Linked DNA regions of Homo sapiens. The protein of the gene in region 3 interacts with the protein of the main gene of each other region in a pairwise test. Each region holds a gene or a part of one and is shown on either strand. Other genes may lie near its edges.

Region 1 (2,260 bases), on a different chromosome or scaffold from region 3:
GAGGAGCGTTGGAATTTGGCCTTGAGTGGAAGCCACAGGATTGGGACATGGTCCAGTCATCCCCAGTCATCCCTGTCTCTGCCACCCTACTGGCTGTGGCTGTCCAGCTGTTAACAGACCTGCACTTGGGGTGGGATCACTGAGGTGCCTTGCCCAGAATGCAGGCATGGCAGCAGCAGTGCCACATGGTAACTCCCCAAGGGGCGTGTGCTGAGCCTGGTTCACCTGCCCCCATGTCTTGCTTACCTACCCCTTGCCTTCTCTCTCATTCTTGTAGCTCCCCAATTCAGGATGTCCCCAAGAAGATATGCAAAGGCCCCAGGAAGGTAAGAGCTTTCTAGAAGAAGCACAGTCTAACCTTTGGCAGGACTGGACTTTTGGGAGGGCACGGTCTTGCCAGAGCCTTGTCACTCCTGGTCCAGGACTGAGGTACTTCGGAGCCACCCTTGGGATTCTACTCATTATCCCTCCTGCCTCCTAGTGAGGCATCAGAGATCCTGATCTTGTTCCACCACCACTACCCTCCCTCCTTTGCTGACATCCAGCTCATCAAGTCTGGCCCTGGGGTCTTCCCTGCAGGAGTCCCAGCTCTCACTGGGTGGCCAGAGCTGTGCAGGAGAGCCAGATGAGGAACTGGTTGGTGCCTTCCCTATTTTTGTCCGGAATGCCATCCTAGGCCAGAAACAGCCCAAGAGGCCCAGGTCAGAGTCCTCTTGCAGCAAAGATGTGGTGAGTGTGGCTTCCCACAGTGGCAGGAGCCAGCCCTCTTGGGTAGAAATGGGTGGCCAGCCCCCCAGCCCATTAGCCTGGCCCACTCATCTCTTCCTTCCACCCTAGGTAAGGACAGGCTTCGATGGGCTCGGTGGCCGGACAAAATTCATCCAGCCTGTATCCTTTTCCTGTGATGTTGAGCTGAGCTGAACTGTGGAGCCCATACTATGCCTCACCTATACCCCCAGCCTGCCAGTGCCAACAGCCTCAGGTGTGCAGTGCTGGGCCTCATTCTGTGTATCAGCGCCGCCCACCCCCGGCTCTGAGCCTTTCTTGCCCTGCATTGCAGTCCTTTCTCGCCCTGCATTGCAGTCCTTTCTCCATGCCTCTTCCTTGACAGCTCCTCCAGACTGACACAGTCATGATCCGCCCATTGCCTGTTAAGCCCAAGACCAAGGTTAAGCAGAGGGTGAGGGTGAAGACAGTGCCTTCTCTCTTCCAGGCCAAGCTGGACACCTTCCTGTGGTCGTGAGAACAGTGAGTCTGACCAATGGCCAGACACATGCCTGCAACTTGTAGGTCAAGGACTGTCCAGGCAGGGGTTTTGTGGACAGAGCCCCACTTTCGGGACCAGCCTGAGGTGTAAGGGCAGACAAACAGGTGAGGGTGAGTGTGGCACCCAGAGACTGCTCTTCCTGCCCTCACCCTGCCCCACTCCTACGACTGGGAGCTGACATGACCAGCCCACTGATCCTGTCAGCAGGTCCTGCTCCTGTTGCCAGGCTCCTGTTTATAGCCATGATCAGATGTGGTCAGACTCTTTCTGGGCCTGGAGACCACGGTCACTTGTTGACTGTCTCTGTGGACCAGAGTGCTTGAGGCATCTCAGGCAGCCTCAGCCCAAGCTTCTACCTGCCTTTGACTTGCTTCTAGGCATAGCCTGGGCCAAGCAGGGTGGGGAATGGAGGATAGCATGGGATGTATGGAGAGGATGGAAGATTTTCATGTAAAATAAAATTAAAAAAAAAAAACAATCTCTTCTTCCTGGTTCTGAGAGTGTAAATTTGCACCAACACTTTAGAAAACTGTTTGGCATGACTTTCTAAAGCAGGAACATCGCCAAGCCTCAGATCCAGCAGTTCCTTCCCTAGGCATATGCCTTCTCATGGGGCACAGGAAGACTCTAGAAAGAATGAGATCACTGCAGCTTTTCTCACAGTCTCTAACCTGGGCACAGCCTAAAGGCCATAAGTAGGAAAGTGAACGAGTAAATGGAAATCTATCTATACAGTGTACTCACAGCAAATAACCAGCGACCACTACCTTCCGTTCCTACCCACGTTTAAACGCTACCAGCCAAATTGCTAGCTTTTGACTTTTGGCTGCAAAGGCACTTTCTTTCTTTTCTTTCTTTTTCTTTCTTTCTTTTTTTTTTTTTTCTTTTTGCAACAGGGTCTCCCTCTGTCTCCCAGGCTGGAGTGCAGTGGCACAATCACAGTTCACTGCAGCCTCAACCTCCCAGGCTCAGGTGATCCTCCCACCTCAGCCT
Region 2 (3,528 bases), on a different chromosome or scaffold from region 3:
GAAATTGTTGAAGACTTTTGAGTACAGTTTTATCACTTTAAGTGGAGTTTTATTCTCCAAAATTAATAAAGTTTAAAACCATGACATGTAAGTACTGTGTGGTTTCAAAGATGTTCGTTTAGACACAGTGTGGATGTATGTTTCTTCTACTTTCTAGCAGAATCTTGTTTAGTTTACAATTTTAGCAGCTATTCATTGGCTGTAGATAATTTTAAAAATCAGGTAACATTCATGCAAGTGTTTGTATTGGCCACTCCCAAACTTGTCTATTGATACGGAAAAGACTTCAGACCTCCTTTCCCACATCTCAGGATACCTTCTCAGCTATTCTTTTGGAAAGCAGAGTTCAAGGCATGACAACATCTCTGAAACCCTGCTGTGCTATTCAGGATGACTTCCTGGTCTCAAGTTATTTACAGCCTAATGAACAACTGATAACCACACTGATGCTATATAAACATACAACTGTAAAAGTTTCTAGTGAACTGGTCCAGATTTTCTTCAGAGATAATTGATGTGCCCAATTTCAGTCCTGGTATTTACTAAGGCTCTGGAATACCTTTGTTTTCTTGCATAATCTAAGAATGAAAGAGGAGGACACTGAGTTTGATATATAAGAAAGTCAGGCAAGAATTTTTGACTTATAAATTAGGGTTTTAAAAAATACATTTACTCTATTAGGATTTTAAATAATTCATGAGAATAGAGTATTTGAGAAAGAGTTTTGAGCACCCATTCAATTCAAAGCATTTTAAGCAGTTCTTACTCAAGTACACTGAAGAGCTTATTGGTCAAGTCCCTTTACTAGAGGCTTTCTTACCATCTTATATTTCTTTCCTCAGCTATTCTAGTTGCTTTTTATTTGGATATCTGATAATTTGATTAACATCCATCATCCCACTAAATCTCCATGAAGATTGTCTTTTTTTTTCTTCACCATTCAATCTCTAGAGCTTAACACAGCCTGATGTACATTGTAGGTGCTCAATAAATATTAATGGGCAAGGAGAGCAAGTGATGATCAGATAAATCAGATTGCTAAAAATAGGTCCCAACTTTCAGTGGAGGTTTGCTGTGTAATTAACTATTATTTCATGGCCTTAGATGGTAAACATAAATATTCGTTGCTTGGTTTAAAGTGCTTGTGTTCTAGGCTTTATCTGTGATACCACATTTTTGTTTACTTTTTTTTCTCTAATCATGGGTTTATAACCTTTATGTGATAATCTAAAGATTGTGCCTTGTCTAAACTGGATTGATGAGCAAAGCTGGTTATTTTTCCAGTTACTTACAGAATAAATTGGTGCAATATAAAAATATTCTGCCTTAATCCTAGCCAGACATTCATTTGTTGCGTTTGCAATTGTACATCTAAAATTTTTCTTTATGTATTATAGGAATTGCTCTACAGTCAATAACAGGCAGTCAGCGTAAGTATATTTAGAAATAAAATGTGTAAATGACTTTTTAACAAGGGATACCTATGAAATTTTTATTTGTTCAGATAAACTAAATGATAAACTATAATTGTGAAGAACTTGGGCCAGGCGCAGTGGCTCACGCCTATAATCCCTGTACTTTGGGAGGCTGAGGCAGGTGGATCACAAGGTCAGGAGATCGAGACCATCTTGGCCAACATGGTGAAACCCCGTCTCTACTAAAAATACAAAAATTAGCCAGGTGTGGTGGCGGGTGCCTGTAGTCCCAGCTACTCAAGAGGCTGAGGCAGGAAAATTGCTTGAACATGGAAGGCAGAGGTTGCAGTGAGCCAAGATCACGCCACTGCATTCCAGCCTGGGCGACAGAGCGAGATTCAGTCTCAAAAAAAAAGAACTTGGAAAATGATGTGATCAAATCACCACTGGTCTGGCTGAATCGAGAATGAGCTTTATTCTGCCTTTGGCTTAGTGCATGTGCTTCAGGGTTTTCCCAAGGATGATGTTCTAACGTTTTACTCACAAAAACTTCAGCAGGCAAAAATACCTTCCTGCTTTCTCTGTTTGGTGTTTAGCGTGTATAACTTTATTTAGTCTGTCTATTGTTTATAGCTATATACTTTTTTTGCCAGGTGATAAGTTGTAATTGTTTAATTTCCATTTTTGTGCTATTTTTTTTAAGTGTAATTAATATTATTCAATTAAAATTATACTTAAAAAAAACACCACCACAGATTTGTTTGGGATAAAATGCTGGACTCTCTGGAGACCAGTCAGACAAAGTCCACAAGTTTTGAGACTGAGTCTCTGGGGCAATATCAAGGAGCAAAGTCTCAAAGAAAAGGTCACATAATAGGGGGCTCACACCCCTCTTATGAAAAAGAAAACAGAAAAAATAGATCTTTTGTCTTCTTTTTCTTTATATTTCAGATATATGTGCTAAAATAATACTAGTTGCATTATTAATAGGATCAAGGTCAGGACATGCAAAAAGTTAGTATTTAGAGTCTACTTATGTTCTAGAGTATCTAATATCTAGAGTCTACCTAAGATTCCAGTAGGTAACATAGCACTCAGGTTCACACTGATTAGTTCCAGGCTGGTGTTTGTACATATTATTTGGTAACTGATAAATGAACATCACATTTTCATCGAGTAATTGAAAAGAGTAAGATATATTTTATTTCTGTTTTGTGAATGTTGCTTTTTTGGGCAAACATTATAACATTGATAAGAAGCTGAAATTGCTTTCATCTAGATTTTGAGAATTTTGTCTTTTATGTTTAGGTATTGAAATAGAAGAGTTACAGAATGAGGAAGAAGAACTAAGTCCACCTCTCATGGAGTACAATATAAATGTGAAATCACACCCTGAGATACAGTTTGCAGAAATTAATAAAGATGGGACCTCAATACCCAGTGAATCTTCAACAGAATCTCTTAAAGATCTCCAGGAAGTATAAGCTCTCATTAATATTTGAGTTAGAAGAACTTATTCTGGGCCTTTAATTTGTTGCATGTGCTGTACTTAAAGCATCCCAGATAATTTTAGCTTATATTTTCATAGTGTTTATACAGAGCTTGAATTGGAATGGTCCTTTCCTTCCTTGCCTCAGTACTTCCTTCCATAATCTTTCCTGCCATAACCATTTATTTTGCCACCATTTCTTAAACACTTATGTGGCAGGCATTATGCTAGACTGTAATATGTTTTTTTAATCCCAGTTGAAGTGGATGTGGGAAGGTATTAGAAAGTAGAAGAAAGTATAGTCTAAAATAGAGAGGAAAGAAAGGAAGAGAAAAGTGGGATATTTCAAAACCATTTGCGCAGAGGTAGAATGAAATTCGTCCAGAATGGAATCTCCGTATTTCTTTACAAATAAGTGGTAACAGTTATTATATAGTCACTAAATTATCCTTAGATCTTTCATCTTATAGGCATGAATATGTTGCTTTTTAAAAAGTGTCTTCCTCCTTTGTTACATCCATGTGTGTAAGTGAGCATCTGTGAACTTTTATCAGTAACCTACTTATTGACATTATGTGTTGTTCCTTTATTCATCAGTGATTATTTAAGGACAGAAGACTAGGA
Region 3 (3,500 bases):
GCTACTCGGGAGGCTGAGGCACAAGAATTGCTTGAACCTGGGAGGCAGAGGTTGCAGTGAGCCAAGATCACGCCACTGCACTCCAGCCTGGGTGACAGAGGGAGACTTTGTCTCAAAAAAGAAAGAAAAGAAAATTCTTAGGTGTTCCTAGTTGACTGTATTAGCTTTATCAGCCATGTTTTTTTTTTCCTCTTTACCTAGAAAACAATGTTGGGCTGACTTACTGACAAAAGAAATTTAACGAGAGTTGACTCTGTTGTAAAGCTTCAGAGAGCAGTAGGTCTAGAGTTCCTGGGGGAGCAAAGCTGAAAAGATAGAGGCACTTAAGAGCAGTCCCCAGTGAAGTTACTATTAGGCATTACTGACTTGGGCTTTCCTCAAGTACAGCAGGGAAACAGAAGCAGGCAGTCAACTTGAACAAGCCAGTCCTGGCTTAGGTTGTGTTCGGCTTCCAGCTCCGGTGCCATCTCTTCAATTAATTGAGCTAAAAATAAATGTCATTAACATCCAAGCTGTCCCCTCCCCCTAATACTTGGTTGGGTTTATGAAAGAGAGGAGCAATTTTGGTATTTGACGTTTTCCATATATTATTTTCAGACCTTCCACTGTCTGGAAGCACCCCTTATTCTCTTCCTGTTCTTTGGAAGAGTTGTGTAGTCTTAAGAGAATTTGACACTCCTTGGGGGTTTGATACAGAACTGGATCCCCAATAGCCCCACCACATGGCCTCTAACCAGATGGCTTCAGTCACCTGTGTCCCTTTATGCTCAACTTCCCTCTCCCCTCACTAACTCCATCACCACCCATAAACAAGCTCTTTGAGATCCACGGAGATTAACATTTAGACAACTTTGGAGCTAATTGCTTACCTAATTTCTTTTGTTTTGATTGTCGTAACTGTTTCTAGTACAAAGAAAATCCCTTCAAAGTTACATAGCTTGCTATTACCTGTTCTTTTGCCCCCCCCCCTTGATTTGAGGATTAGGCAATTGACTGATTTCTGGTGAAATCAGAACATGAGCATGAGACAGAGGCTGGGAAATTCCAGAGTATTAATAGTGAAAGAGAAACTTATGGTGAGTCACTTATGGTGGTGTTGCCGGGCCCCAGGGTACTTGTTCCCTATTCTTTCTCTGCCTCACCCTCCATTCCTTCTGATGTGTTTACAGTACATGGACTGGACCTGCCTGGAGCCCAGCCCAGAGCATCTCCTCAGTGCTCATCTCTATCCAGTCCCTGATGACTGAGAACCCCTATCACAATGAGCCCGGCTTTGAACAGGTAAGGCCAGATGGGCCTGGCTCTGGGGTGTAGACTATTGTTTTTGTTTGTTTGGTTGGTTGGTTTTTTTGTTTTTTTTTTTTTTTGAGACAGAGTCTTCCTCTGTCACCTAGGCTGTAGTGCAGTGGTGCAATCTCAGCTTACTGCAACCTCCGCCTCCCGGGTTCAAGCCATTCTGTCTCAGCCTCCCAAGTAGCTGGGACTACAGGCGTGTACCACCATGCCTGGCTAATTTTTATATTTTTAGTAGAGATGGGGTTTCACCATATTGGCCAGGCTGGTCTCCAGCTCCTGACCTGGTGATCCGCCTGCCTCGGCCTCCCAGAGTGCTGGGATTACAGGCGTGAGCCACCGCGCCCAGCCAGAATAGTGTTTTAAGAGATCTGCTTGGGAGGTTTTTTTTGTTTTGTTTTGTTTTGTTTTGTTTTGGACCTAGCACAGCCCCATGTACTACATTTGTTGGTATAGGGAAAAAAAGGGAATTGACACGTGTTTTTTAGTAATGAAATTTTTTGCCGACCACTGTGGCTCACACCTGTAATCCCAGCACTTTGGGAGGCTGAGGCAGGCAGGTGGATCACCTGAGGTCAGGAGTTTGAGACCAGCCTGGCCAACCTGGTAAAACCCCATCTCTACTAAAAATTAACTGGTCAGAAGTTTGAGACCAGCCTGGCCAACATGGTGAAAACCTGTCTCTACTAAAAATAAAAGAAATTAGCTGGGTGTGATCACTTGAACCCTGGAGGCAGAGGTTGCAGTGAGCTGAGATCACGCCATTACACTCCAGCCTGGGTAAGGAGCGAAACTCGGTCCCCCCACCCCCAAAAAAATAATAATGGCCAGGCGCGGTGGCTCACACCTGTAATCCCAGCACTTTGGGAGGCCGAGGCGGGCAGATCACAAGGTCAGAAGTTTGAGATCATCCTGGCTAACACAGTGAAACCCAGTCTGTACTAAAAATACAAAAAATTAGCTGGGTGTGGTGGCAGGCGCCTGTAGTCCCAGCTACTCGGAGGCTGAGACAGGAGAATGGCGTGAACCCAGGTGGTGGAGCTTACAGTGAGCCAAGATTGGGCCATTGCATTCCAGCCTGAGCGACAGAGCGAGACACCGTCTTAAAAAAATAATAATAATAATGAATTTTTTTATTTGTGAGAGTTACAATAAGTATGTGACTTGGATTCCTTTATAGCATGGAAGTCAATGGACTCCTTTGGAAATTAATTCTGACCTGCTTTGGGGGTTGTGGCATCCAGTGGGTTCTATGTGCCTATATTCTCAGCATCCCCTAAAGTTGCTCTGTAGGGACTACTACCCAGCCAGCTGTTCTTCTGGGGTTATGAAGGACTGTTACCTGCAGAGTCAAAGGAGCTAGTCATTAGGAGTCCCGGGCAAGACTTTTTGAGTTAACAGTGCCAACGAGAAGGTGGAGAAAACTCACATTTTTCCAAGAGCATGCTCTGTGCTGGACACTACCAAGTTTTTATATATAATTTCTTGTTTAACCTTCATACTATGTGAGGTTAAATATGGTTATTCCCATTTTCAAGTGAAATAATGTTGCCTCAGAGAGGTTAATTAACTTTCACAAAGACACACAGATCAGGATAGGACCCCAGACTTACATTGGAGCCCAACTTCTCCCACTCTTCCGATGTGCCTTCCTGAATTACTCATGAGCACGGGAAAAAGTTCCAGTGATAGTCCCAAAAGAAAATGATTCCGGATAGGTGATTAGAACAGCTTAATTAATTTATTTATTTTTTGAGACAGAGTTTCACTATTGTTACCCAGGCTGGAGTGTAATGGCACAATCTCGGCTCACAGCAACTTCTGCCTCCCAGGTTCAAGTGATTCCTCTGCCTCAGCCTCCCGAGTAGCTGGGATTACGGGCACGCACCACCACACCTGGCTAATTTTTTGTATTTTTAGTAGAGAAGGGGTTTCACCATCTTGGCCAGGCTGGTTTCGAATTTCGGACCTCAGGTGATCCACTCGCCTTGGCCTCTGAAAGTGCTGGGATTACAGGCGTGAGCAACCATGCCTGGCCAACTTAATTTATTTTTAAACTATTACATATGACACCAACTTTGATTCTTCCTCTATAGACCTGAACAAAGGATAATAAAATGCCTTTCAAAAATGAAAAATAAAAATTTTTTTTGAGACAGAGTCTCACTCCATCACTCAGGCTGGAGTGCAGTGGTGTGATCTCGGCT
Region 4 (3,528 bases), on a different chromosome or scaffold from region 3:
TATATAAAAAGTACTGATAAGGAATAAATCCATACGTGAACATTTGTACCCAACATACAAAACACACACGTTCCTGTTTATGCACGGCATATTTTTGTATCTGAAATGTTTTAAATGTTCAAGTAGTAATTTTAAGAAAAAAATTGAAGCTGAGACTTAACTCCTTTCAGTAATTTTGCAAATGCAGTGCTAAAGATTTAACTCCAAATTCTTCACATTGTCTAATTTGTAATTTAGGATGAGTTATGCTGAATTTCTTTGAAAAAAAAGTATATAAAGTAATTAATGCAGATCAATTTAAAAATAACATTAAAACTTTTTTGATGTTTGTATCTACCAGTGTTAGTCCTTTTATCTACTAATTGTAGTTACCATATTTACCCTGCTTATTGTTAGAAGGACTTGAGCTTGTTTCTGGTAGATAAGCCCCCGGTTACTTCTGATTTTTTAGACCTGGCCTGATTTCTTCTGAGCTGCTGCTGTGTTCATGTGTTAATTTTCAAAAATATCTGTATCACATATATGTTGATATAAAATTGGACTAACCTAGTTTAAATAGTCAATTAAGTTAGCATAATAATAAAAGTATCCTATAGTGCATGGCAAGTTCCTTATTGCAGTAATAATAAATGGAATGTCATTGACCTGGTAGGACTGAGAAAATATTTTGAATACAACTGATAGCATCACAGAATTTTAATGGCAGAAGGAACCTTAGAGACAATCTAAATTTAGTTCATCCCTTTCATTTTATAGGAATAAGACATGGGGCCATAAAGGTCAAGTCTTGCTGAAACTTACATATAAGCTTATTTGTGATAAAACTGTGACTGAAACTCGGGACTTAAAATTCTTTTATATTCTTTTACCTCCTAACAACTAAAGCACCTGTTCATTCGCTCTTCAGTGAGTAGTGTAATTCTAGAGTTGATTTATGTGCCTTTTTGGCGTTTGACTAGTTTGTGGTTTTTAAATTTAATTTAATTTCAATTTCTTAATTTTTTGGGACAGGGTCTCACTTTCTTGCCCAGGCTGGAGTGCAGTGGCATAATCATGGTTCACTCTATCCTCTACCTACTAGGCTGAAGTGATCCTCCCATCTCAGCATCCCTAGGAGCCAGAACTACAGGCATGCACCCCCATGCCTGGCTAATTTTTTAAAAATTTTTTTGTAGAGATGGGATCTCTCACTATGTTATCCAGGCTGGTCTCAAACTCCTGAGCTCAAGTGATCCTCCCACCTTGGTCTCCCAAAGTGCTGAGATTATTGGCATGAGCCACCACTCCTGGCCCGTTTGACATTAACGCCAGTTAATTAAATGATTTCAAATCTGACTTAAATGCAAGTATTATTTTAATTAGTTTGTTTTACATTGTTTCTTGTTGCTGTTTATTGTAGCTTAAAACAGAATTTGACAAATTGTTTGAAGATTTAAAAGAAGATGATAAAACCCATGAAATGGAACCAGCTGAGGTATTGAACCAATATTTTTTATTTAAGACTACTCAGAATGTTTAAATATACTTAGAATCTACTTTTTGTTTAATCACAGGATCTGCATGTGAAAAAGGAATGGCTTAATGTATTTCGCTTTATGACTTTTTATTTATAGGCTATTGAAACACCACTGCTTCCACATCAAAAACAAGCTCTAGCTTGGATGGTGTCACGGGAAAATAGCAAAGAACTTCCACCATTCTGGGAACAGCGAAATGACTTATACTATAACACAATAACAAATTTTTCTGAGAAGGACCGACCAGAAAATGTCCATGGAGGAATTTTAGCTGATGATATGGGTTTGGTAATTATTTTTTTCTTTAGTTAATAAAATCTAATTTTGTGATTATGATTTTCTAGAAAGTAATTTTGAAGTAAAAAGAGATAGGAATATGTTGGTACCAGTTTGGGACTAGATCTTACTATCTTTGTAGAACACAGTTTTTCCTGTAGTTTTTAGTTAAAATAGTGGTATAAAGATGTGTTCCTCAGTTTTCTTTTTTTTTTTTTTGAGATGGAGTCTTGCTCTGTCACCCAGGCTGGAGTGCAGTGACGCGATCTTGGCTCACTGCAGCCTCCGCCTCCCAGGTTCAAGCAGTTCTCCTGTCTCAGACTTCCAAATAGCTGGGATTACAGGCATGTGCCACCATGCCCAGCTAATTTTTGTATTTTTAGTAGAGACAGGGTTTTACCACGTTGGCCAGGCTGGTTTTGAACTCCTGACTTCAAGTGATCCGCCCGCCTTGGCCTCCCAAAGTGCTGGGGTTACAGATGTGAGCCACCCTGCCTGGCCATGTTTCTCAATTTTCTTTGCTCTTTGAAATTCAGGGTGACCTGTCTTTCATAGGTTTTCTTTTAAAAAGTAAAGACAAAACAATGTTATGTGAAATTGTATTCCATCACAAATATTGTGTTATGCAGAGTATTAAATAGATACTTATGTGTCCTTACACTAGCAGTTTTTATATTTTTCAGTCTCAGTAACCCTTTCTACTCATAAAAATTACTGATTTCAAAGAGCTTTTGCTTTTGTGTGCTGTTATCAGTAGTTATAGTATTAGGCAGTGGTAGCTAAAGATAGCAGTACAAACTCATTGCTTGTTAACATAAATAGCATATTTTTAAAAGAAAAATAACTATGCCAAAACATTAACATTTTTGTTGCAACAACTGGCATTGTCACATTTTTGCACATCTCTGTGTTTGGCCGAATAGATGGCAGCTGAATTCTCACCTGCTTCTTCATTCAGTCTGTTCTGTTAGGTTGTTTTGGTTGAAGTATATGAAGAAAATTTGTCCTTACGACGGTATGTTGCTGTAAAGAGAGGAGTATTGTAATAGCTTTTTAGATAATTGCAGATTTCTTTGATATACTGCATCAAAATTCAATAAATATTAGTTTATTAAAGGTTAATTGTTGTAATATGGAACGCTAAATCATATCAGTGAGCTTTTTATACCCTGTTTTGTTAAAATCTATTTGTGTATCTTGCTCATTGAATGAATATTTTACCCATGTATGATTTTATAACACCAGGCATTGCTCATTTAGAAAATGTTGGTTCATTGAGTTGGGCAGACCTACTAAATGTTGATGTATTTCATATGCAATATCCAAAACTTACATTCATTAATATTACCACTGATGTTATTAGAAAATCATTTACATTTTGGGAAGGCACTATGTTCATAGTGTCACACACAACTTTTCCAACATTCTAATTTTCTATTGAAAACTCACATTTTATCATTGACAAGCTCAGTTGTTTCCTTTGTAGATGACAGCCTCACTTTGTTCATTTTCTAGAAAGTATCTTTCAGACACTCAGTCGTGATTGATAGTTGTCATTCAAGTAAAAATGGTGTCGCATGAAAAAAGTGACTAGTTGAGCTTATAACTCCCATCTTGAGTGATTTTTCTCTAGCTAACCCTCATAGTTTGATATGCAACAGAAGTAGTTAATATGTAGTTTCCATTTCACTACACAGAATATTAAAAAGATTTGTACTGAAGTAATGAGACTTAA
Region 5 (3,528 bases), on a different chromosome or scaffold from region 3:
TCTTCCAAGTTCCCTTTTTCCTGTATAATGCTGAATCTGTTTCTTAAAATAGTCAACTCTTTTTATTGTTCTTCACATTACAAAAGTAACACTCAGAAAACCAAGACATGTTTTTAGAAAATGGTAATTCTCCTTCCCCCACTCCATAGACACCATCTTTCTTTGTACTCTGACAGAAATGCATATTTTAAGTAGGATTACAATAAACACATTATTATCCAAGGTTTCAACAATGGGAATGACATCTGAATACTCACCTACTTTCACTCCTACAACTGCAAATCTCCAAAGTTCTGAAACTCGACTTGCCTTAAACTAGAATCAGCTTTTCCTTGTGATTTGCTATTTCAGTTGAAGGTACCATTATTGTTCTTTTAGAGATACTCCCAACCCAGCCCCACATGCTCAAACTTTGCCAATTAGTTGCCAAATTCTTCTAACACCTCTATCTCCCTTTTCTGTGACACCAATCAATCAGTCTGTCTCAAAAAACCCTCATCTTGTCCAAATCCATTTACAAGCCATCACCAAATTGCCTTTCTTCATTCCCTGCTCAAAATACTTCAGCGGCTCTGAAATTACTATCAACTAAAATCTACATTCTTGCTCCTGGCATTCAAGAACCCAATTTGCTTTACAGTAATATTCCTCCTAACACACACACATCAGTGCTCCAGACTTGGATTCCCCAAACACATTCCTTTCTCCACTATAGCTACAGCAGTGTTTACATTCTTTTTGCTTGGAATGATGTCCCCAACCTCCCAATCCCTGACTATTCAAATCCTACCTATCCTAGAAACCTACTTTCTTTGATAGAAACTGTTCTTTCAGCATACCTGCAGAACTTAGTGAAACATTTAACACTCATATATCACCTGATATTGTAGTCTGCAGTTATCTAAGTATAATCTACCCTATTACACATGTATCTATAACAGAAAGCAAAGATCCTACCCTGTCCATCTATGGATTCTACAATATTTTGTACAAAATAAGTACAATTAGTATTCATTAGGAAATGTCTGTCACATCTGGATGTTTTTAAAGGCAACCACAAAATATAGCCTGCTTGAAAAATAAAATCTATGTTTCAGACAATGAGAAACCATACCCTGGAGTACAGAAAAAGTGACAAACTCCAAATTAAAAATCCATCTTGGCTGGGTGTGGTGGCTCACAATGGTAATCCCAGCACTTTGGGAGGCTGAGGCGGGTGGATCACTTGAGGCCAGGAGTTCAAGACCATGTCAACATGGTGAAACCCTGTCTCTACCAAAAATATAAAAATATGCCAGGGTGGTAGCACGTGCCTGTACTCCCAGCTACTCAGGGGGTTGAGGTGGGAGAATCGCTTGAACCCGGGAGGCATTGCAGTTAGCTGAGATCGCACCACTGCATGCCAGCCTGGGTGACAGTGAGACCCTGTCTCAAAATACATAAATAAATAAATATTAAATAAAATAAAAATCCATCTATCCACCTTATTTCAGCAGGTAATCAAGACATTGCATATTATTACAGTAGACGCATTTCACAATCCACTGCACATATAAGCAAGGGCTAGTTCATTTAAGTGATGACTCTGTCCAGGGATTTAAAATGTATTCTGTGCCAAAATGTCAAGTCATCTGTGAAAAGGAAAACAAAAGGACACAATAAAGTAGAAGACATATAAACCTCTAAATACAAACCACCTGATTCCCCAAGAAAATGGGCCACTAATAATCCCCCAAAGAGTTGTGAGCTCAGAACAGGCTCTTTTAAATATATATATTTTTAATATATATATTTTTAAATATATATATATTTAAATAATATATATATATTTTTAATAGATATATTTTTAAATATATATATATTTAAATATATATATATATTTTTAATATATATATTTTTAAATATATATATATTTAAATAATATATATATATTATATATATATATATTTTTTTTTATATTTTTTTTAATGGAGTTTCGCTCCTGTTGCCCAGGCTGGAGTGCAATGGCGTGATCTTGGCTCACTGCAACCTCTGCCTCCCAGGTTCAAGCGATTCTTCTGCTTCAGCCTCCCAAGAAGCTGGGATTACAGGTATGTACCACCACTCCCAGCTAATTTTGCATTTTCAGTAGAGACAGGGTTTTTCCACGTTGGTCAGGCTGGTCTCAAACTCCTGACCTCAGGTGATCCACCCGCTTCGGCCTCCCAAACTACTGCGATTATAGGCGTGAGCCACTGCGCTCGGCCCTGAAAAGATTTTTTTATTAGAAACTTCTTCCATGGAAGGTAACAAGAAAATGGAATTAATTCAGCCTACCAGATGCCATATGTAATCTTACATTCTCTACATGGAAAACCACCTTATTTTCCTGAGACAAAACTTCAGAAACTTTAAAACAAATCTTCTAAGTTGGGTCAAAACCAAAACAAAATAACTCTAGTTCTACTTTATGCCACTTAGAGGGGAGAAAGTCAAGCAGGAACTGTAAATTATTTTTGTCAACTTGCTATTCACAAAGTAGTAAATTAATCTTCAGTAACTATTCATGAGCTTTGCCATAATTTTATAACTAATTTTTAAAATTCTAATAACTTTTTTCCTGAAGCTTGTTTTTACTACACACAAATGAAGAAATTATTTGGGTTTTAGAAACATTTCTAGTGAAAAAGTGCCATTTTGCTTTATGCAAATGTATCAAAGAAAAAAAGGGGAAGGCATCAGATAGACAAATAATGTAGTAAGACTACAACCTCAAAATTTGGATGTATCCCAGCAAGTAACAATCTGACAATACTCTATCCTGATTAAAATCACACCCCCCAAGATGTAATAGTGAGTTAACATTTCAAGAATAGTATATGTTTGTTTTAATTCCTACCCAAAGTTTGTAGGTATATGGGGTTCATAGATTTTCCTTTTATAGTCACGTTCCTACCTATGGAATTTGGGAAGAATCTGCTCTCATTTTAAAAACCAATATCCTAAGTAACAAGTCTCCAAAGTAATCATCTTTCTCATGGCCTTTGCAGAATAATATCAAAGTTTCACTGCATTTTTACATTAGACATGAAAGCCTTTCTTGGTATTTAAACTGTAGGTCTAAGAAAATATAAAAGTCCAGAGACAGTTTCTCATTAGGATTTGGAAGTGACTTGCACAAGTAATCAAGACTGTATATAAATGCTGCTTTATAAAAAATTTTGAGAACAGAATTTACTGAAATCACAACTCAGAGATCTCAGTCCAATTCTCCAGTGATTAAGAGAGTTCACTAGAGTTTTCAAGGTAGCCAAAAAGAGGCAGGTATCCAAATCAATTCAGGAACTTTGAAACTATATATGAACTCAACTCATGAAAGAGTTCAGGCCTTTTCAATTTGGATTACCAAAAACAGGCAAATAAAAACAAAAGAAAAAATAAAAACTTACTATACATGTTACATAACAAAGTGTTTCACTCTTTTATGTGTAAAGTCTATTCATACCCTTACCCTCTTTTGGAAACTTATGACTAAAAATCAGGGTACAA

The links.
Region 1: the proteins of UBE2Z (region 3) and TRAIP interact in a two-hybrid assay, tested with the Homo sapiens proteins (one large-scale study listed by BioGRID and IntAct).
Region 2: the proteins of UBE2Z (region 3) and DZIP3 interact in a two-hybrid assay, tested with the Homo sapiens proteins (one large-scale study listed by BioGRID and IntAct).
Region 4: the proteins of UBE2Z (region 3) and HLTF interact in a two-hybrid assay, tested with the Homo sapiens proteins (one large-scale study listed by BioGRID and IntAct).
Region 5: the proteins of UBE2Z (region 3) and RNF139 interact in a two-hybrid assay, tested with the Homo sapiens proteins (one large-scale study listed by BioGRID and IntAct).

The regions. Positions count from the first base shown.
Region 1 is NC_000003.12:49,828,086-49,830,345, reverse strand, and holds the end of TRAIP (E3 ubiquitin-protein ligase TRAIP), read left to right. Parts: intron 1-277; coding exon 278-326; intron 327-579; coding exon 580-729; intron 730-837; coding exon 838-888; intron 889-1,120; coding exon 1,121-1,243; 3' UTR 1,244-1,745; downstream 1,746-2,260. UniProt on the Homo sapiens protein: E3 ubiquitin ligase required to protect genome stability in response to replication stress.
Region 2 is NC_000003.12:108,645,220-108,648,747, forward strand, and holds part of DZIP3 (E3 ubiquitin-protein ligase DZIP3), read left to right. Parts: intron 1-1,397; coding exon 1,398-1,430; intron 1,431-2,723; coding exon 2,724-2,893; coding exon of another isoform or gene 2,894-2,899; exon of another isoform or gene 2,900-3,528. UniProt on the Homo sapiens protein: E3 Ubiquitin ligase proteins mediate ubiquitination and subsequent proteasomal degradation of target proteins.
Region 3 is NC_000017.11:48,914,907-48,918,406, forward strand, and holds part of UBE2Z (ubiquitin-conjugating enzyme E2 Z), read left to right. Parts: intron 1-1,169; coding exon 1,170-1,281; intron 1,282-3,500. UniProt on the Homo sapiens protein: Catalyzes the covalent attachment of ubiquitin to other proteins. Specific substrate for UBA6, not charged with ubiquitin by UBE1. May be involved in apoptosis regulation.
Region 4 is NC_000003.12:149,069,529-149,073,056, reverse strand, and holds part of HLTF (helicase-like transcription factor), read left to right. Parts: intron 1-1,399; coding exon 1,400-1,474; intron 1,475-1,613; coding exon 1,614-1,805; intron 1,806-3,528. UniProt on the Homo sapiens protein: Has both helicase and E3 ubiquitin ligase activities. Possesses intrinsic ATP-dependent nucleosome-remodeling activity; This activity may be required for transcriptional activation or repression of specific target promoters.
Region 5 is NC_000008.11:124,481,363-124,484,890, reverse strand, and holds part of RNF139 (E3 ubiquitin-protein ligase RNF139), read right to left. Parts: intron 1,632-3,528; exon of another isoform or gene 1,484-1,631; intron 1-1,483. UniProt on the Homo sapiens protein: E3-ubiquitin ligase; acts as a negative regulator of cell proliferation through mechanisms involving G2/M arrest and cell death.